4 linked regions of the Homo sapiens genome follow. The protein of the gene in region 1 interacts with the protein of each later gene in a pairwise test. Each region holds a gene or a part of one and is shown on either strand. Other genes may lie near its edges.

The links.
Region 2: the proteins of CKMT1B (region 1) and CTNNA3 interact in binary tests that used the Homo sapiens proteins (3 or more experiments, as listed by UniProt).
Region 3: the proteins of CKMT1B (region 1) and HPCA interact in binary tests that used the Homo sapiens proteins (3 or more experiments, as listed by UniProt).
Region 4: the proteins of CKMT1B (region 1) and PPP1R16A interact in binary tests that used the Homo sapiens proteins (3 or more experiments, as listed by UniProt).

What each region holds. Positions count from the first base shown.
Region 1 is NC_000015.10:43,592,099-43,597,602, reverse strand, and holds the start of CKMT1B (creatine kinase U-type, mitochondrial precursor), read right to left. Parts: upstream 3,577-5,504; 5' UTR 3,385-3,576; coding exon 3,236-3,384; intron 2,909-3,235; exon of another isoform or gene 2,725-2,908; coding exon of another isoform or gene 2,632-2,724; coding exon 2,433-2,631; intron 2,230-2,432; coding exon 2,134-2,229; intron 1,748-2,133; coding exon 1,526-1,747; exon of another isoform or gene 1,525-1,525; intron 1,397-1,524; coding exon 1,311-1,396; intron 1,196-1,310; coding exon 1,072-1,195; intron 228-1,071; exon of another isoform or gene 1-227. UniProt on the Homo sapiens protein: Reversibly catalyzes the transfer of phosphate between ATP and various phosphogens (e.g. creatine phosphate).
Region 2 is NC_000010.11:65,918,253-65,923,143, forward strand, and holds part of CTNNA3 (catenin alpha-3), read right to left. Parts: intron 2,366-4,891; coding exon 2,078-2,365; 3' UTR 1-2,077. UniProt on the Homo sapiens protein: May be involved in formation of stretch-resistant cell-cell adhesion complexes.
Region 3 is NC_000001.11:32,884,056-32,889,733, forward strand, and holds the start of HPCA (neuron-specific calcium-binding protein hippocalcin), read left to right. Parts: upstream 1-2,435; 5' UTR 2,436-2,460; intron 2,461-3,442; exon of another isoform or gene 3,443-3,508; intron 3,509-4,822; 5' UTR 4,823-4,843; coding exon 4,844-5,221; intron 5,222-5,678. UniProt on the Homo sapiens protein: Calcium-binding protein that may play a role in the regulation of voltage-dependent calcium channels. May also play a role in cyclic-nucleotide-mediated signaling through the regulation of adenylate and guanylate cyclases.
Region 4 is NC_000008.11:144,483,534-144,488,424, forward strand, and holds part of PPP1R16A (protein phosphatase 1 regulatory subunit 16A), read left to right. Parts: intron 1-4,891. UniProt on the Homo sapiens protein: Inhibits protein phosphatase 1 activity toward phosphorylase, myosin light chain and myosin substrates.

The DNA of each region.
Region 1 (5,504 bases):
ACAAGGGATCTAGCAGAATGATGGTCACAAAGACCACAACCCAACATGAGTAAAGGGATCCTCTTTATAGTTCAGAAGGAACCATGCCATAGGGGATATCTTACATGCTGAACATGGGGGGAAACTCTTCCATCCAGAATAATATTGCAGCTAACACTTTAACACTTATTAAGCACTTACTGTGGACCAAGTACTTTACCTGTATTTCACTTAATCCCCACAACAACCTAAAATGTAGAAAATCTCATTATCCCAATTTTACAGATGAGGAAACTGAGGCATATAATTTAAAGGTACTTCCCTACCCACTCATAGTCAGAATATGTTATCTATTACTTGCCAAAAATAGTAGAAACTTCTCAGAATCTAAAAGAGGAGCTCTTTTTCTTTGCAAACCTAAAATAGAACTGTATGTTTGAGAACATACAGTAAGAATTGAATTGAGTTTATGGGGATTTCTAATGTAGACTTGAATACGGAGACCCAATCCATGTAGGATTGATGATTCAGTTCAACCTCTCATCTAGAGCCACATATTCTAGAACTTGAACCATTCTATCCTCCACCTTCCCCAGTCTCTCTCCGAACTCTCAACTTAAAGCCTAGACCCGATACTTTAACAAGAATGATAGAATCCAGAGTCAAGGCCTACCTTGTCTCAGAACTGGGTGGTTATATTAGAGTCATGAACACAGCAACCTCTCCCCGCCAACATCAATCTAAGCTCGAATGTTTTCCTTATCTGCACACCTCACCATCCCACTGCACACATCCCAGGCACTGACGTGCCATCTCATTTATTCCTTCTTTGCACTCTCTGTCAACAGCCTTGTTCACTTCCTAAGATTCCTGACACTCTTTCTTTTCCTAATCTTAGTGTGACCACATGTCCTGGTTTTCCCAGTATGGTCCCAGCTGGTTTACACCTTTAGTCCTGGAGTGAGTCCTAGATAGTCCTTTTTACTATAAGACATGTCCTGGGTTGGTTGGTAAATTACATAATCTATTTATGCTACTCTTTGGTTTTCCTTATGTCCTCCCACCTAGCTCCCCTACATAGTCTTCTCTAACCTCTTTGAGGCCTCGGCAGAATCTTTCAAACACTCTCTTCATGTTACCACCCTTCTCCATGGAGATCACCCGTGTATGATCCTCCTCATTCACCCAGATCAGGAAGCTCTTCTCATTGTTGTGCCTGAGGGCCGGAGAGGGACAGTGATCAAGAGGCAAGGCAAGAATTGGGAGAGATAGAGGGAAAAAAAGCATTTATGAGGGCATGAAGACAAAAGAGGTAATGAGCAGCTTCATACCAAATTCCACGAGCATCTGGCCAGTCTCGAGCCATTCCTGCTGCAGTCAGCAACGGGGACACAGGCTTATCAAACAGAAAGTGGTCCTGGGAAGAGTAACGGGACTTGGGTTAAGAATCTTCATGGTGGCCCCTGGGCCTTTCAGAGCCCATGTCTCATCTGGCCCAGCCTTCCCCATCTGCTCCCACCAACCAGCACCCTCTTAAGGCCCTCACATCAATAAGCTGCTGCTGTTCAGCCTCTGTCATCTCACTGAGCCTATAGTAACGTCCAGCCAGGTCACCCTTCAGGCCACTCAGTGCATCCACCACAACACGTTCCACCTCTCGTCGCTCTGCTCGAGTGCAAGCTGGAGGCAGACTGAGTCCTCGGATGCTTCGGCCAGTTCTGACTCTAGAGGACAATACATACCTCTCATCAAAGTAGCCAGAACGGATCTGGGAGATAAGGGAAATGAATGTAAGTCACAGAAACACGGTGGGAACTGAGGGCCCCTGGGAAAGGAGAGACCTTCCTTAGGCATTAGAGGACTCTTTGTGCATTCTTCCTGCATGCATTGGAAGAAGAGGCCCTTTGGGAAAGCACTGGAATTGAAGGGGGCATTGCAGACCTTTCCCCAAACCACCCACCTTGGGTCATGGTCATTCTTATCTATCCTTCCATCTCCATATATGCTGCCCCTTAAGATATGATTCTTTCCTTACATTAAGATTAAAAGCTCAGCTGTATAATGACCATGAGTCAGGAAATAAGGTGAAGGGGTTGGAGATACAGAGTGTTGTACACAGGCAATGCAAATCAGAAGTGGGATATTTGAACTCACTTTACTGGCATCTAGATCCGTGGTGTGCTTCATTGTCCGGGGGTCATATCCATTGTGTCGCTCTTGGATCACAGGGTCAAACAGGTCAGCAAATACCTAAGGGGAGTTAAGAGGGAGAGATGGTTAAGGAGAGGGAATCCCTCCCCAGACTTCAATTGTGCATTGATTTCACTGGTTCAGAAAACTTAAGTATGGGGGGCTCAGAGTCTTGGGGGAAAGTGAGAGGTCTTTAGGGGAAAGGAGCTGGGATTACTGGGAAGATGAATTGGATCATCAGGGAGACTCTGGGGACCCCCTACCTCATAGGTCTCCTCATCTCCAGCCACCATGCCCACAGTCTTGATGAAGGGGTGGCCAGGGTTGTCCACGCCAGTCTGGATACACTGATCTAGCGTCCAACCAGTGGGTGTGGTCTTGTCGCAGAGCCGTGCATAGACTGCTGGGGTCAGGTGACTGGCCATGCAGTTGTTGTGCTTTCGGAGGTCTGGGTACTCAGCGCTGGGGAGGGGGTACCCAGTAACCATGGAGGGAGGGCACAGACGCCTAGACCTAGTGCAGTTACCTGGGAGCTGTCCAGTTGGCCATGTCTGGCTTTGCTCCGCGGGAGGAGGGGGAATTAGAAAGAGGGTAAACCTTGGTAATCTCTTTAGGGACTTTCAGAGTCTATGCTTTCCTAATAGTTCTAGTTGCCTCTGGCTGGCCAGCTCAGTTTCTTCAGATCTGCTCAGTTCTTTCCTCCCATGACACAACACTACGGATGGAGGAGGGGAAAAGCCTAAGGAGAGGAATTGAGGAAATGAGGGAAGGAGATGGAGGGGAGCGAAAAGGATAGTTCCTGGCTTTACAATTAGGGATTTGGGCAGCCAGTGCAGCTAGAACTCGTAGGGCCAGAGCTGGTCTTGGCAGGTCCCCAGGAATGTTCTTGCTTTATGGTTTTGGCCCCCACCCCCACCCCACTGAGGTCTGCAGACTGCACAGCCCTCCAGCTCCAGGGCCTTCGTGATTATAGCCCTTCTCTGTTGCCCGGATTCTCACTTCTACCCGCACCTTCGTTCCCATCACCTCCTGCCCCCGCCTCCTCCCGCGCCTCAGGCACTGTTACCTCGGGGGATACAGCCTCCGTCGTTCACTGGCAGCTCGTACAGGTTCCGGTCGGAGCAGAAACCCAGCGGCTAGAGACCCCGCTCCGGCCAAAGCCAGGAGCCTGAGTCCCGGGCGGGCGGACAGCAGACGGGAGAAGGGACCAGCCATGGCTTGAGGTCTGGCTACGGGATCCTGGAGTAGGCGCTGGCGCAAGATAAGATCCGGAACAGGGAGGGAGGATGCAACCGGATAGACCGAGGGCCGGAGCTAGGTCCGAGGCTGCAGCCGAAATGGGGGTCGGATTGGAGGCTGGAGCCGGAATGGGAGCCGGTGCCAATCAGACTGCAGGAGAGGCGCAATGAGCTAGTGGCAGGCGGGCGGGCGGAGGAGAGGGAGGCCCCAGCCGCAGTCTCCAGGGGTGGGGCTCCCCCAGGCCCCGCCTTCCCGCCTGCCACCGCGCTAGGTGCGCGAGGGCAGGGGTGGGCAGCACCCGCCAGGTAATTAGCGGGACCTGAGACTCGCGCGTCTAAAGCCGGGGATGTAGCCCCCTCCCGCCCCGGGGATGTGGCCGCCCAGATTTCAGCACCAAGTGGAGGACAGCACCCACGTGGACTAGCTGAACCCAACACCCTTCCCCCACACCCCTCGGTTTAAGCTGAAACTCGATCCGTCTACCCTGTGGGTGTGCAAGGGTGACACTGCCCAACCTTTCCTCTGCTTTCGGCCTGCCCCAGCCACCTCTTCGGTCTCCCGGGGGCAGCCGCGGGGAAACCGCGGAATAAACACAGATACCAGAGGAGGATATGGAGAAAGCACAGGGTTAGAGGCAGGCACTGGGAAAGACACCCACTGGCTCAAGGTCACCTTTTCCTTAGAACCAGGAAGAGGAGCAAGGTGCTTCCTTGCCACCTCTGTGCACGCCTTACAAAGTTGAGAAAGGACTCCCTGGGAGGAACCAAGGAAATATTAATTCTTATGCCATCTGTGCTGTGTCCTCCACCTCCATTCTGCACCCAAGTCTGAAGCCCTGTTATTTCCTGCCTCTGCTTCTCATGATCCCCCACTTTTTGTTTTCCTTTTGTCTCTCCCACTTTCCTCCACGTCCCCTACCTCACCTTTGATCTTTTACTTCTCTGCGTCTTTTCCAGGCTCAGATGTGTTTGCTGCTCACAGGATGCCCTCTGCGTTTTCTCGGCAAGCTTGCCCACCTGTTGGTGGTGCTGGGTGTGGGGGTGGGCAGGGAATCGTTAGTTTCCTCCTCCTCCTCTCCCTTGGCTTCTCTCTCCGTAGTTCCTAGTTCCTGTGCTGGAGGAGAAGGTAAAGTGAGGTGAAGGGTGTGGTGAGATGACTGGGTGTGGGACTGGAACAGGCAGGCACAGGTCTCCAGACACCACATGTGTTTCCTCTCTTGTCTCCCTAATGCTGTTTAATCCAGAGAGTAAAGGCGAGTGGTGTACAAAGGCATGAGGTCGTCAGGGAATCTCTGCCTTCCTCGTGGTCCCCTCTGCTGCTCTCTCTCTCCTCGTGAAACACATATTCAGATTTGAGAGGGCTTTGTTTCCCAGCTCCAGGTATGATTTGACCTTTGTCCTGGTAGCAAGGAGAATGAATGCTAGAGTTGAAATAGAGATGAGGGGCTTCAGCGTGGAGGGTCAGTTAAGGTGGAGTAGCACCGTGGCATTAGTCCCTTCCCTCTGCTATCCTGGTGTACCCACAAGACAGATACTTGGAAATCTTAACAGAGAGTATTTGGGAAAGAGAATTCCCTTTACATAGAAAATTCCCCCATATTACTCTCATTCCCTTCATTCTCCTTAGGCCTTCCTTGTGTCCTTTTATTCTACCTTTGTCATTTGTGGGTATTCTTAGAAGTGTCCACTTCTCTCTTGGGTCCATCCCTTCTTCTTCTGGTAAGACATCAATTATTAGAGAACAGAGTTATGCAGCTGTAGTGTGGAAAATGTTACCTGTGTTGTGGGGCCTCTTTACCTAGGTTGAAAAGTAGCCATGAGTAAATAAATATAATTTCTTAGAATAGCGTGTATTTATCCAGATAAATAGGGAGATAATCTTCCAGAGCAGTAGGGTTGCTATTTGATTGAGAGGGTGTTACTAAGGAATAGGAAGTGGGAAGAGATAATTACCGAAGGAGAAATAAGACAGCCAGAGGAGTAGAGAAATTACCCAAGTTTAGAGAGTAGCTTCCCAAATGTGAACAATAATTCCACTGAGAAAACACATGTACTTATGCACTTTTCTTATCCCTTGTGTGCCTTTTACAAGCACAT
Region 2 (4,891 bases), on another chromosome or scaffold:
GACATTAGATTTTCTAAATGAGATGCTTATGATTCTTGTGAATGTGGCTTTAGGAGCTAAGATACACAACTGCTAGTTTGGTGATTTCAAAAAAATTTTCTATACAGCTGGTAGTTTGGTGATTAAAAGAAAATTCCTCTCCCCACTAAATTATAAATTTATACTTCTATCTGGAAGAAGGATATACCACAGATGTCACTCGTGCAACATCTACACTTAGAGCAGAAAATGATGGCAGCATTTCAATAAAAGAAAATCTCTATTTGCCTCAATCATCTAGATAATTCTGAAAAACAGAGTCATCTGAATTCCCTAATTCCCTTCTTCACTGCCTTTTCTTCTGGGCAGTGCATTCTGTTCAGAATAGTTATTGTAGGCCAGTCTATGGTGCAAAACAGGGAGGAGTTTATTGCCTTCACCTCCTAGGAAGTTTTACACTGAGCTCAGGCAATCCAGCTACTTGGAAGATTGAAATAATTCATTACAAGAAATTTAACATTTCCTGCATAATTAATAATGACCTATTAAATAGATCCTTCTTTTCCCATACCATTATGCTTAAGATTCCACACATATCGTACTGTCAATCTTTATGCTTTTCTATGTTTCATGCATCCTTTTACCCAAACTGGTTCTCCTAATATCAACTGGTATTGTATGTGTAAATTTTTTTCTCATCAATCTAAGGTTACATCGTTGCTGAGACGCCTCTCATCAATGGCAATGTTTTAGAAGTAAAAAGGTACAATATAATACTATTATGATAATGTAGAATAGAAAATGTTTTTTAAAGTCTGTGAATCAGAACTCTATGAATGAGAAAAAATGAAAACAAAACTTATGGCCTCCAAAGAGTTTCTGTTAAGGACATTTTTGAAAGACAGAGAGAGGCAGGTCATCAGGGGAGAGAAAAAGAGAGAGAGAATGACAGAGAGAGGTACACTAGACTCTAAGACTATTATGAAGTCCATTATGAACTCAACTAGGAATGAACACAGTGACTGGAGTTGTAAAATGACCCCAGTGACTTTTATTTAAAAGAACGTTATTAAAATCACTCCAGCTTCATTGCCATTAACTGCTTCATAGTTCAATGGTACAGTTCATGCAGTTATATTTTACTCAACGTCAAAAGATTTTTCAAACTGCCATTTTCCTTTTAATTACAATTGCAAGCTGATAAAAATGTATTTTTATGTTTGTAAAAATAGGGTCATACAGAACTTACACTTCTGTTATTATTAATATAACTCACTTTGGGATATAGTTTGTTGTCTCATTTTCCCAATGGGTGATAACTCTTCTTTCACATATGTATTCGGATAGGCCTAACACTCAAAAGTACAGAACTCTCTAACACATTGGAAACCCAAAAGGTGAGTATGTGGCATCAGAACTCATTGTAACCTTTATAATGTTAAGAAAGCATTTTATTAATAAACAAGGTTGACCTTCAAAATCCAGCAAGTAGCCTAACTATTCAAATTTGATTAGTTTATAATGGATATTAGCCTAATAAGTTGACAATGAGTACAGCTATCTAGAGATTAAAAGGTGGTTTTTTTGCTATGGCAGGAATCATACATTTCTGCCTGGTTAGGTGCCAGGTTAGATCAGATAAAGAAAGCATGGAGATTAAATGGGAAAATATTTTATAAAAGTCTTTTGTTTCTATTAAAAAACCAAGTTAGGAGCTCATGTTAGTGTTTTAATTCAAGATAAGGATGATAAGTGTACATGAAGTATTACAGATAAACAGGACTCTCTGGCCTCTCCTGTGTTTATTTGGTAACGAATAGTAGATAATCTCTATGATGGGAAACGCTGAATGACACGTGATAATTTCATTCATTCAACAAGCAAATATTCCTTAACTATTAGGTGCTGACCATACAGAAATGACAGTGATATGATCCCAAATATATATTGCTTTTGTTGATTTAGCGCCCAATATTTTATGTTATTTGTGAGTTAAACACCAAAACTTAGTGAAATTACAGAACTTCTTAAGTGTAAAATAAAGCAGTGTGGTTAGGCAGGATTTTGTCATATAGGCACTATATGTAGAATAGTGGTTTCAGTAGATTTGTCTTCCTCTAAATTCACTCATGACTTGCAATGGATGGATTTTTTTCTTTGCTGAGCCTCGTCTGACAGCTGCACACGTTTCCTCTGGCTTCTCTCTTTTAATCAAGGGTTTTTTTGCAGGAGCCTTCATTCTCCACATCACAACTGGGTGCCGGGGCCCAGCAGGACTCTGGATTCGGATGATCTTGGTTGAGGCAATGTAAGACATTTTCACTGTTTGCACTACAGCATTCATTAAATTTTTGGCTGCTTGGATCAGGGATGTGACACTGTCCAACTGTAGGGAAAAAAGAGAAAAAAGAGCTATTATTCCAGGAGGTTTTGTTAATTATTGCCAAGCGTGGGCATGGTGGCATGTGCCCGTTGCCCCAGCTACTCAGGAGGCTGAGGAGGGAGGATCACTTGAGCCCAGGAGGCAAAGGTTGCAGTGAGCCAAGATGGCGTCACTGCACCGCAGCCTGGGTGACAGTGAAACCCCATATAAAAAAATAAATAAATAATAAAAATAAAAATAACTGAGCCTGATAGTCTATTAATGTCACAATAAGCTGCTCAATATTGTCTATGCCCAAACATAAATCAATAAGTTCTGCCTCATTTTTTTGTATCTAGATGGATAAGTGATTATGTTCAATTAACTCTTATGCTAATTATGTAATGTGTTTTGCAAATAACCCTAATACGCCAATTTAAATAGAATCCTGTTAAATATTATCCTGTATAAATCTTACTTTTATTATAGTGTCTCTTCTGTGCTTTGTGGTATTATATGGTTTCAGTTTAACAACGGTACAAATTGGACCAATTCTACAAATGTTTACGGATAAAGGACTTGCTCTTAAAAACATATCAATAGCCATTTACTACAAAAAGGTGGAGTTTAGCAACAATAAAATACATTTTCTGTTTCCTCATAAAATGTTAACATTTCGTCCATGTAAGTAGTTTGTATAGAATACCTGGATCTTTTCTCAAAAACACTAAATACCTATAAATCCTTGACAACTATGTCAATTTGGAATGTCTGCTAGCAAACCCTTGCCAAAACCCTATTGTAATTAGTGATAGCTAAGAGGAATATTCAAAAAGACATGGTACATATTCCTTCTCTTGCTTTTGGAAGTTTCTCACAGAGATTGTGTCAAAACACTAGAATGCTTTCTACTCGTAGGACACTAGTCTAACTCCCTATAGTTTGGATTCAAGACTGTTACCAGACATACGCCTTACATGAGGATTCTAAGCCTACGTGAACCTCACTTCCACTGGTGTGGATCTCACTTTCTTGCACCTGGTCTGTCACCTGGGAAAGCAGCTTCCCAATCACAGGGCAGTGTGAACTGCCATGCCAACTGCTTCTTCTGAGACTCCTGCTGAGAGAAAAACCTGATGCTGCTTGGAAAGATATATGGTCTGTCCAGTAACCTTTTTGGTAAATTGGTACCAAATGTAGCCTATGATCTTGAGTCTCAAGGTGTACCTGAATTCAAAGACCCCTGTTGGATGTTGGTCCTGCACAAAAGCAATTTTTGAAAGACAAATGTCAAGAGTTTGGTTCCAAGTGTCAGAAGAGCTTAAAATAATTGCTAATATCTATTATATGCTGTAGTATGCAGTTGACATAAAGTAACTCATAGCAACCCTATGAGGTAAGTACTCTTATTATCTTCATTTTATGGATGAAGAAACAAAGGAACTGGAAGGTCTGGTGACTTGCTCAAAGTAACACAGATATTAGATAGTAGGGCTGGAACTGGAACCAAGTAAGTCTGGTTCTACCTTGCGTTTTTTCTCATTACATAAACCTGCCTCCAAGAATATCCTACTTCCAATATGTGATTATTTTTCGATATCAAATAGTTAAATAAATTATACTAACCTTAACAGAGTGTCTAAAATTTTAAAGTTGACTAGCCAGCAACTCTGCTTTTAAGAAGCTTGCTCTTATTTTTGTAATGCATGTTGCTACCAGGAGCAATAGAGTATCTTATTTGCCAATGCATTTTGTTAGGATTGTGGTTTGAAAATTTATATACTAATTTCCAAGTTGTGTTTCTTTGGAAGAGCAAATAGAAGTACTCAGTCACCCTTATAGGCCCCAAACCATTTAAAGACATTTAGATTAAGACTATTTCATAACAAAACATTTTTAAATTTTAAAACCTGGGTCTCAATACACATATCAATAAGGCAAAGAAGAACCATAAACAAATCACATTATAGGTTCTAGGACATGGAAGTACATAACATTTATCTTTAAATCTTTTAAATGTGTCAGTATAAATACAATCCTGATTAACCAAACTTTTTTTTCTTATTCTCCAATAAAATTAAGTCAATTTGTTTGCTTGGTTTTGCAAAAATAACAGGATTTGATCCTAGGACTCCAGAGTTTCTTCTCAATGTAGTTATTTTTAAAGTTGTATTCGTTCATTTACACACTACTACAAAGATACTACCCGAGACTGGGTTATTTATAAAGGAAAGAGGTTTAATTGACTCACAGTTCTGCATGTCTGGCAGGGAGGCCTCAGGAAACTTACAATCATGGCAGAAGGGGAAGCAGACACATCTTACATGGCAACAGGAGAGAGACAGCAAACAAAAGCAGGGAAAACTGCCTTATAAAACCATCGATCTCATGAGAACTCACTATCACGAGAACAGCATGGGGGAAACTGCCTCCATGATCCAGTCACCTCCCTCCCTCAATATGTGGGGAATTACAGGTCGCTCCCTCACACTTGGGGATTACAATTGAAGATGAGATTTGGGTGGGGACACAAAGCCTAACCATATCAAA
Region 3 (5,678 bases), on another chromosome or scaffold:
GGACCCAGGCCCGCTGCCCAGCTGCCCCTCAGCCCCCCTTTTCATGGCCATATCTTAGAGCACTAGGGCTTGGACCAAAGGCCGTGTTGTGCAGTGTGGGGAGCCCTGAACCTTCTTTGGCTGTTGGGGGGTGGGCTTGCAATGCTTCTTAGTCCCTCTGAAAGGTGCAGGTGGCTGATGGGAAGTAGCAGCAGAACCCACTAGGGCCCACACTCTGCCTCCAGAACCACCTACACAGTCTAGGTGCAGGGAAAGACAAAGGCAGGAGGGGCTCATGGGGATGCGAGACATGGCCTTGCCTTCCAAAACCCCTATCTACTGGGGAGACAGAACACAGACTGGGGGTCCGAAGGCAGGGCACCAGAGTCACCCTCAAAGAAGAAAGGTGGTTGGTGGTGGGGGTGGGGAGAAGTCAGCCCCTGAGGGGGTGAGCCTGCAGGAGGCTGAACTGGGGAAGTGGGGAGAAGGCAAAGAGGGAGCTGAGCAGCCCAAGATGGGGATAAACTGAGTCCCCCAAGGATAAAGAGGAGGATCCAGACCACTCAGGAGAGAGAGGAAGGGGTGATGGGGGAGGGGGCTGAGGAGGTGAGGGAGGGTGGGACCGTCTCCCCGACCCCAGCACAGCTGGCCCCCCAGGCCTGGTGGGGAAATGGGAGGGAGCTTGCCACTGGAGGGCCCTGGGGTGGGGGCTGAGCAGCGAGTCTCTCCCAGCCCCCAGGTCCTCACGCAGGAGGCAGCTGGGAACCACCCACGCTCATCTGGTGTCTCTCACGCCTCCACTGGGGGTCCCAACATCAGAGCCAAGGCACACAGTGAAGCCGGTGTTCCGGAGAGCCCAGCTGTCCCCACCCCACCCCGGCTCCTCAGTTCCTCCAGCCGAGACCTCCCCACCTGCCTCCAAGCAGGAGGGACTAAGGCTAGACTCTGAGGACTTGAGAGGCTCAGTCTGGGAGCCTGGAGGCGGAGCCCTGGGGTGCCAGGAGGGGCTGAGCTGCCGATGCTGAAGAAACTCTGGGCTGGGAAGGGCCCTCTGGGCAGATGGCAAATGCTGCCGGCTTTACCTGCGAAGTAAATCCAGAAACCAGACCCACCCCGGCCATCTCTCAGCCTGAAATGGCCCCTTCTCCCACCTTGCCCCCAACTCCTCAAAGTCTCTTCTTGACATAATAACCCAAGGAAGCTGTCCACATGGAGGTCACACCCTCTCACTCTGCTCAAAGCCCCCCAGGACTTCCCATCTCATCTGGAATAAAAAGCCTAAAGTCATTGTCATAGGCCCCAAGGCCCTGGATGGCCCCAATGGCAGTTACCATTCTAACTGCCACACCCAAATCCCAACGTTTAAAAACACATGTCTAATATCGACATGTATATTGTGTCCATTGTTTATTGTCTGCGCCTGTAGTCCCACTATCTAGACAGAACAATGCTGGCCGCAGAACTAGTGTTTTATATGTATTTGTGGAATGAATGGATGAGGGCGCACACACTGGAAAAATCACTTAACCCCTTTGAGCCCATTTCTTCATGGGGACAATAAGGACCAACCCCTAGAAATGGAAAAAGGACAAAATCTCAGCCCAGCATGCGGAGAATGTTGCTGAGGCTGGGGGCAGGAGGAGCTGGGCTAGGGGTCATCGACTCTGGAGAGGAGCTGTGCGGTCGGCAGGCAGTGGGTAGGTGCCACAGGATCCCCAGGCAGATGTTCTGCCCTCCTGTCATGGCCTGCACAATCAGAGGCTGGGGAGGGAGGAAGGGAGGGGGTTTCCTTGATTGGAAGGGGGAGTGGGAGGAGCAGCTGACACCAAAGTTGGGAGGTGGGATTAATTCTGAGAGGGGGGTCGGGGTGAGGTCTGGAGTGGTGGGTTTGACATGGGGGCCGGCTCGCCAAGGTGGAGGTGGGGAAGGGGGCGTGTCTGGTCCCCTACCCCGAAGACCTCAGTAGCTGGAGGAATGGGCGCTCCACGCTCCCAGCTCCGTTAGTTGGGAGTTGAGGCGCAGGAGCAGGGAGGGTGCCCAGGGTGCCAATTCGGCCCTCGAAGCGACGTGCGGCTCAGAGCCCAGGTGGGTATGGGGAAGGAAGCGGGGCGGAGTGGCCTGGGATCGCCCCCGGCTCAGGAGAGAGACCTCTTGGCACTACCGTGTCCCTCCATTCCGGCCACCAGAGCCGAGGTGCCGAGGAGAGGGGCGCCGCGATCCTCCTCCCCGGGCAGGGTGCTCCCTCGAGGGGGACCGGGGAACTGAGGGCGTCCCCTTCTCTCCGGGGCGGGGGTGGGGGGCGGAGCCCAGCGCGCCGCTCCCCAGCCCCCAGGGCTGGCGGGGACCCCCCCAGGGGAGGGGCTCCGGGTGAGCGCTGCGGGGCGTCTCCCTCGCAGTCCCGCCCGCCCCTCCTGCCGCCCCTGCCGCGCGCGCCGCAGCAGCGCCGCCTTCCCTGCGCAGTCGGTGTCTCCGCGTCGCTGGGTGAGTGGGGGCAGCTCCAGCCGGGGCCGGGGGATGAGGGCAGGGGGTTCCCGGAGCTGGGGGCCCACGTCCAGGGCTTCCCAACACCGCCGCTCCCGGGCTTCCCGGGAATCCTTGCCCCGGGTGGCGGGGGCGCTGGGGACTGGGAAGCGCGCGGTGCTCTCCAGGGTCCTGACCGCCGAGTGGCCGGCCCCTAGGAACCGCGTTCGACCGCCCTGGAGCGCCCCCTCCAGGAGGGGCCACGCGCCGGGCGCTGTCCTAGTGCTGAGCGGATGGAGGCGGGGGCTGGGGGACAGAGCTGAGGGAGGTTTGGAGCGGGTCCCCGGGGCTGGCTTCTCAGGTCGAGCTGAGGGGGTTCTTCCCATATGGGGGACTGGAGGTCTTTGCGGGCAGCTGAATCTTCTTGCAACCGGGAGGGGCAACTCCGAGGGTGGCAGGGCCCAGGGGGCACTGGAGGAGCTCTCTTGCTCCGCGCATCTCTCTGCCCCCACCCCGGTGACCCAGTTCCTTGGACCTTGAGGAGGGCAGTGCGGGACATGCCCCAGCCCTTCTCATTTCCTTAGCCCTTTCCCACTCACTTGTCCGGTGGGTCCTTAGCCTGGGCCATAAGAGGCTGGTCTAGAAAGGAGGGGCACCAACTTACAGAAACATGCATGTGACACACCGCCGAGGACACACACGGGTCCTCCAAATGGCCACACGGGCTCATTCCCTCACGCTGTGACGGGTGCATACCTGATCACATGCACATCTGAGGCACATGCAGGGACATAGATGGAAAGACACGGCAGGCAAATGCAATGCAAAAACCAGCGGCACACATCATGCATGAGCACATGCACTCACAACACACCCATTCACATGTGTGCAGAGCTTCATGCACATGTATGCACAAGGAGGCCCCTCCTTGCCCTAAGTGGGTGGGGGTCACCTGCACACACGCCTACATCCTTGTGCAGAACTGGCTGGCTGTTTCCTCTTCATTGCCTTCTACTCAGCCTCCACAATCTAACCTGCACTCAGGGGACCTTTCAGGACTAGATGAAGGGTAAGTGTTGGGGAGGCTTGGATGGGCTTGGTGGGGGGTCTCCTTGGAAAAGGGGCCCCGAGCAGGTCTGGGAAGGTTTGCAGCTCCCTCTCCTGGGACCTGGCAGCACCCCTGGGAAAACAGAAGGAAAACAAAGAAAAATGGCAAGGGTGCCTGAAGGTCCCACGTGCAGCTGGCCATGTGAGAGGTGTCGGCATGCGAGTTGGCGTGTGATGGCATGTGTGAGACATGTGGGGTCGTGGGCTGGTGTGTCTTGATGCACAGGGTATGGGAGTTGTGCGTGGTGCCATGTGTCGATTCGTGTGAGTTGTGGAGCAGAGGGAATGTCGTCATGTGTGGAGGCATGCTGACCCATGGGTGGGCGTGGGCTGGTACGTGAGTGGCATGGGATCCAGGGTGTGGATCTGGTGAGCTATGAAGCATACAGTTATCGGTATACATTCATTTGCACAGTTTTTGCATGAGTTTTGTGGCACCTGGGTATATGTAAGTCATTTTTATTTATTTAACATTTATGTAGCACTTATCTATGCAGCCATGGTTCTAAGTGCTTCACACATATTAACTAATTTAATCCCCAAAACAATCCTCTTAGGTAAGTACTGTTATTACCCCACTTTAAAGATAAGGCAGAGAGAGTTTAAGGAACTTGCCCAAGGTCACATAGCTGGTAAGAGGAGGAGCTGGGATTCAAACCTAGGTGATCTGACTCTGGAGCCCACAGTAACACCTCCCTCTGCTGCCTCTTGTTGGGCACACCTGTCAGAGGGAGAACAGGGCAGTGTCTGGGCTGCGGGTATATTCAGTGCTGAGCAGGCACATGTGAGGCAATGAGAAGGCAGTGGGTAGGACGGAGGAGGATCAGAAGGTTTTTCTGCACCTCTGTGGGCAACTCTAGGAGTCAGCCTCATAATGCCATGGCTGTGTGACCTGAAGCAGCCACCTCACGTCTGTAAGCCTGCCTTCTCATCTGTAAAATGGGGCAAATCCCCATACAACCTGTTGCGAAAGTGAATTGGTGTGCATTTGTGAAGGCTTAGTGGCTGGCACCTAGAAGGGCCTCAGTAAATGTGAACCACCCTTCCCTTCCTCCCTCTCCCAGGAAAGCGTATGGTCCAGGGAGATGGTGTGGAGCATGGCATAGATACAGGATGCCTGGGTCTAGGCTGTGTGACCTTGGGCCAGTTCCTCTCTTTCACTGGGCCAAACAAGAGGCAGGGATGGCTGTTGGCAGGGGGGCCCATCTGGAGCAGTGTCTAGTAGCCAGGAGGGCCTGATCACTCCTCTCTGCCCTTGACCCCCTTGGGGACCCAGGTGGGACTTGGCTCGGCGGCCATGGGCAAGCAGAACAGCAAGCTGCGGCCCGAGATGTTGCAGGACCTGCGAGAGAACACAGAGTTCTCAGAGCTGGAGCTGCAGGAGTGGTACAAGGGCTTCCTCAAGGACTGCCCCACAGGAATCCTCAATGTGGATGAGTTCAAGAAGATCTACGCCAACTTCTTTCCCTATGGTGACGCCTCCAAGTTTGCCGAGCACGTCTTCCGCACCTTTGACACCAACAGCGATGGCACCATAGACTTTCGGGAGTTCATCATTGCGCTGAGCGTGACCTCGCGCGGCCGCCTGGAGCAGAAGCTCATGTGGGCCTTCAGCATGTATGACCTGGACGGCAACGGCTACATCAGCCGGGAGGAGATGCTGGAGATCGTGCAGGTGGGCCCCTGGGCCCCTCAGAATGCCAGGCACAGGGCCCGGCAGCTTGCACCCACCACCCCTTTTGATCCTCTCAGCAGACCTCGTAGGCATGTGGTGGCAGGGGATATTCTTGCAATCCCATTTTAAAAATTGTTTTTAGGAAATATTTCCCATTTAAAGAAAAGTTGAGAAAACTCCCCTATACCCTCTACCCAGATTCACCAATTAACATTTTCCCACAGTTGCTTCATCATTATCAGTGTGTGTGTGCGTGTGTGCACACTAGTGTGTAACATTTTCTTGCTGTTCTGAACATTGGCCCTTTACCCCTGGATACATTAGGATATATTTCCTAAAAATAAGCACATTCTCTTACATAACCCATAATATGATTACCAAAGCCAGGATATTTAACATAGAAACAATGCTATTATCTAATCTACCAACCATATTCCAATTTTGCCAACTGTCTCCA
Region 4 (4,891 bases), on another chromosome or scaffold:
TGAGTAGCTGAGACTACAGGTGCATGCCGCCACGACCGGCTTTTGTATTTTTAGTAGAAATGGGGTTTTACCCTGTTGGTCAGGCTGGTCTCGAACTCTTGACCTCAGGTGATCCACCCGCCTTGGCCTCCCAAAGTGCTGGGATTACAGGCATGAGCCACTGCGCCCGGTCTCTTTTTTTTTTTGAGACAGAGTCTTGCTCTGTTGCCCAGGCTGGAGAGCAGTGGTGTGATTAGAGATCACTGCAGCCTCAAACTCCTGGGTTCAAGCAATCCTCCTGCTTTGGCCTCCCATATGTTGGGATTATAGGCGTGAGCCACCATGCCCAGCCCTTCCCTGTTTTCTTTTTCCTTGGCCACCTTCCCCTGCTCATCTCTCTGCTCTGACAGCTCCTACCATCTTTCCTTCCAACTTCTAGGAATGTGCTGGCTGACTGTGAGCTCTCTTTCTTGGAAATGCCTTTCCAGCTCCTGTCCCAGGCTCACAGGCATCTCAGTGGCTTACTGTGTCACCTGCGCCCTAGGTTGGTTGTCTAGACCCCACACCTCTGTTGTCCTAAGGCTGGGGACCCTCACGGTCCCAGTGCTGCCTCCTTCCACACTCCCAGGCCCTGTGCCACTGGCACGTCTGTCCGCAGGTCCCCTTCCCACAGCCCCACCTAGACCGAAAGGTCTGTGTCTCTGTGAGGAAGTGAATACCGAGTCAGAGCAAATCCTGGGTTACAGCGCCGACCCCTCTGAAGCTCACTTTTGTGATTTTGGTTTCCTCACCATTGTACTTGACAGACCTTAGTTGCCACATCTACTCCGTGGGGGTTATGGCCCATTAGAGCTATGAGGCTGAATGAGGCAGTTCATAGGGAAGGCTGCTTGTGGCCCTGGCTTCTAGAAAGGTGTGATTTGCAGGGGCTGCTAGGAGCCCTCCCTGCCCTCTCTTCCCTTTCTTTTGGTCTAGGGCTGGCTTTTATCTTCAGTTCTCGTTGAGTCTCTTTTCAAATGCAGATGCCTCAGGCTGCCAGCTTCTTTCATTTAGGCATCTGGGCCTTTGACACCTTGCTGTGAGTTAGTTTATTCGATTTATTTTGAAGCCAGGTGGCAAGGGGAAAGGAAATTGAAGAGGGAGATGCAACGCTTCCCCTGGTTTCTGGGGAGAGGCTTCCCCAATTCTCCAGCCCCTGACAGACATTGCGTGAGAGCTCATGGTTAGCGGGCCAGTCCCTGGTGTGGTCCACGCGTATCTCCTGTCCCGGGCTGGAAGCATGATGTGTGCAAATGTCCAAATCACGGGGTCTTCCCTCCCTCACAGGGCTTTAGCCAGGCAGCTGTTACTGAGGTAAATAATGATTTGTGTTTGTAGATAAAAAATAGTGGAATAGTTTCAATTTCATATGGTTCTGCTGCTGGGTGTTATGCAGGGGGAATCTGAGGAGCACTGAGATCACTGGGAAAGAGGCCGGGTGCGTGGCTCACGCCTGTCATCCCAGCACTTCGGGAGGCCGAGGCAGAATGAAGAATCTCATGCCAGGGGCCAGAAAGGAGGCTGAGACCAGAGTGTGAGTAGGAGTCAGCCCCCTCAGAGGTGGGACCAGAGAGGAGGCTCCTTAGGAAGCCATAGTGAGGAGGACATGTGGGACAGGCTCAAGGATTGACAAAAGAACCAGTAAAAAAGAATAGAATCTCAAAAAAAAAAAAAAAAAAAAAAAAAAAAGGCCAGGCGCAGTGGCTCATGCCTGTAATTCTAGCACTTTGGGAGGCCAAGGTGGGTGGATCACTTGAGGTCAGGAGTTCAAGAATAGCCTGGCCGACATGGTGAAACCGTGTCTCTACTGAAAATACAAAAAATTAGCCAGGCGTGGTGGCACACACCTGTAATCCCAGCTACCCGGGAGGCTGAGGCAGGAGAATGGCACGAACCCAGGAGGTAGAGCTTGCAGTGAGCTGAGATTGCGCCACTGCACTGCAGCCCGGGCAACAGAGCAACACTCCATCTCGGGAAAAAAAAAAACAATAGATAAAGAAAAATAAATAAAAAAAGAAAAGAGATGGCTCAGAGATCCCTTGTAGACTTCCCGGGTACCCATGTGGTAACGTTGCACCTGTCAATGGAGTACAGCAGTTCAAGGGGATGTTGACACCAATGTGCTCCATTGACCTTATTCAGATTTCACAGCTTTCCATGTGTCTACCTGTGTGTGTGTGGTTTAGTTCTGCGCATCTGTCACTGTAGGGTTTGTGTGAGCCCATGGCCAAGATGCAGCACAGCCACCATAGGGACCTCTTGAGCTGCCCTCTTGCAGCCACAGCCACCTCCCTTTCCCAGCCTGAACCCCTGAGAGCCACTGGTATGTTCTCCATCTGTATGGTTTCACCATTACGAGAATGCTCCATAAATGGAGTGCTGCAGGGTGTGGGCGTTGAGGTCGGCGTGATGTCCTGAGGTCCATCCAGTTGTGTGCACTACTAGTGTGTTCCTTTGACTGGAGGAAACGTCTATGGTATGGATGGACGGACCATCATGTTTCACCTGTTACAAGACATTTGGTTTTTTCCCCCAGTTTTTTGCTATTATGAATAAAGTTGCCATGAACATTTATGTAGTTTTTTGTGTGACTTAATTTTTTTTATTTTTTGAGACAGAGCCTCACACTGTTGCCAGGTTGGAGTGCAGTGGTGTGATCTCGCGCCACCACACCTGGCTAATTTTTGTATTTGTAGTACAGATGGGGTTTTGCCATGTTAGCCAGGCTGGTCTTGAACTCCTGACCTCATGTGATCCCGCCTGCCCCAGCCTCCGAAAGTGCTGGGATTACAGGCGTGAGCCACCACGCCTGACTTAAATTTTCATTTCTCTGGGATAAAGGCCCGTGAGCGCAGCTGCTGGGTGGTTTGGGAGTTGCATGTTGAGCTGTTTTGGTTTAAGAAACTTCCACACTGCTCTCCAGAGTGGTGGCTGTTTTATTTCACAGGTTTTCATCAGCTCCTGTGAGATTCCTTTGTCCTCACATCCTTGCCGTTTGGATTCGTGGGCAGCGGTATCTCGCTGTGGCTCTAATTTGCATTTTACGAATGGCGGGTGATGTTGAGCATCTTGTCACGGACGCATTTGCCATCTGTGTATCCTCTTCAGTGAGGTGTGTCTTTGCATCCTCTGCCCATTTTCTAATTGGATCGTTTCATTTTTACTGCTGATTTTTTGAGACTCGTGTGTTCTTGACAGCAGTCCTTTGTTCTGTGTGTGGTCTGTGGATATTTACTCACTCAGTAGCTGTCTTTTCATCCTCCTCTCAGGGTTTTTAGCAAGGCAAAAGTTTTTAATCTTGTCAAGGTCCAGTTTTTCCGTTTTCCGTTTTATAGACTGTGCTTTTGCTTTTGGTGTCACCACTCTGTAGAAGTGCTATTATTTTACCTTTACGTTAGATTTGCATTTCACCTGGGGTGGGGGTCAAGATTCTTTTCTTTTCTTCTGTTTTTTTGTTTTTTGATTATTTTCTGTCACCCAGTCTGGAGTGCAGTGGTGTGATCTCGGCTCACTGCAACCTCCACCTCCCAGATTCAAGCGATTCTCCTACCTCAGCCTTCAGAGTAGCTGGGACTACAGGTGTGTGGCACCACAACCGGCTAATTTTTTGTATTTCTAGTAGAGACGGGGTTTCACCCTGTTGGTCTCGAACTCCTGATCTCAAGCAATCCTTCCCCCTCAGCCTCCCGAAGTGCTGGGATTACAGGCGTAAGTCACTGCGCCTGGCCCCAGCACCATTTATTGAAGGCTTTTCCACTCCCAGCAGTGTCATAAATTGCATGTCTACACATGTGTAGGTTTATTTCTGTTTTGTTTTGGGGACAAAACAAAACAGTCAGAGACAGAGTCTTTCTCTGTCCCCCAGGCTGGAGTGCAGTGTTGATTTCGGCTCACTGCAACCTCTGCCTCCCAGGCTCAAGTGATCTTCCCACCTCAGCCTCCCAAGTAGCTGGAACTGCAGGGGTGCACCACCATGCCTGGCTAATTTTTTAAATTTTGTAGAGATGAGAGTCTCCCTGTTTTGCCTAGGCTGGCCTTGAATCCCTGGGCTCAAGTGATCCTCCTGCCTCGGCCTCCCAAATTGCTGGGATTGCAGGTGTGAGCTGCCTCATCTGGCAATTTTCTGGACTCAACCGTATTCCATTGGTTTATTTCTCTATGCCTAAGCCAGTAACTTAGGTCTTACTTACCAAACTGTATATAATAAGTCTTGACATCTAATAGTGTAAGTACTTCAAATTTGTTCTCTTTCAGGCTTATCCCTAGTGTTCTTGGCCTTTTGTGTTTCCATATAAGTGGAGCATTAGCTTGTGAGTCTCACACTGTTGGGGTTTTGATTGGGACTACGTCAAATCTTGGATGAATTTGGGGAGAAATGACATCTTTTCAGTTCTGGGTTTTGCAACATATAACGAGATGTCTCCTCCTATATCTTCCCATAAAGATATGGTTGTGGTTTACTCTGTACATCTTTTGTTAGGCTTATTCCGAGGCATTGAGGCTTTTGGGTGCTATTCTGTTGTTCAGTTCTAAGTAGGAGTGGACATCCTCCCCTGACAGCCTCTGTCTTTCCAGGGAATTTGCTTTGGGAGGGCAGGAGAGAAAAGGCAAGGGAAGCTCTTTCCAGGGGATATGCTTTGGGAGGGCAGGAGAGAAAAGGCAAGGGAAGCTCTTTCCAGGGGATATGCTTTGGGAGGGCAGGAGAGAAAAGGCAAGGGAAGCTCTTTCCAGGGAATTTGCTTTGTCTGGGAGGGCAGGAGAGAAAAGGCAAGGGAAGCAGATTTCTGCAAGCGTCAGAGCCCTTGAGGGAGTGGCTCTGCTATGTTCAGAGTCACTGGGGCTGTGGGAGCAGGAGGGCATGGGGCAAGGTGAG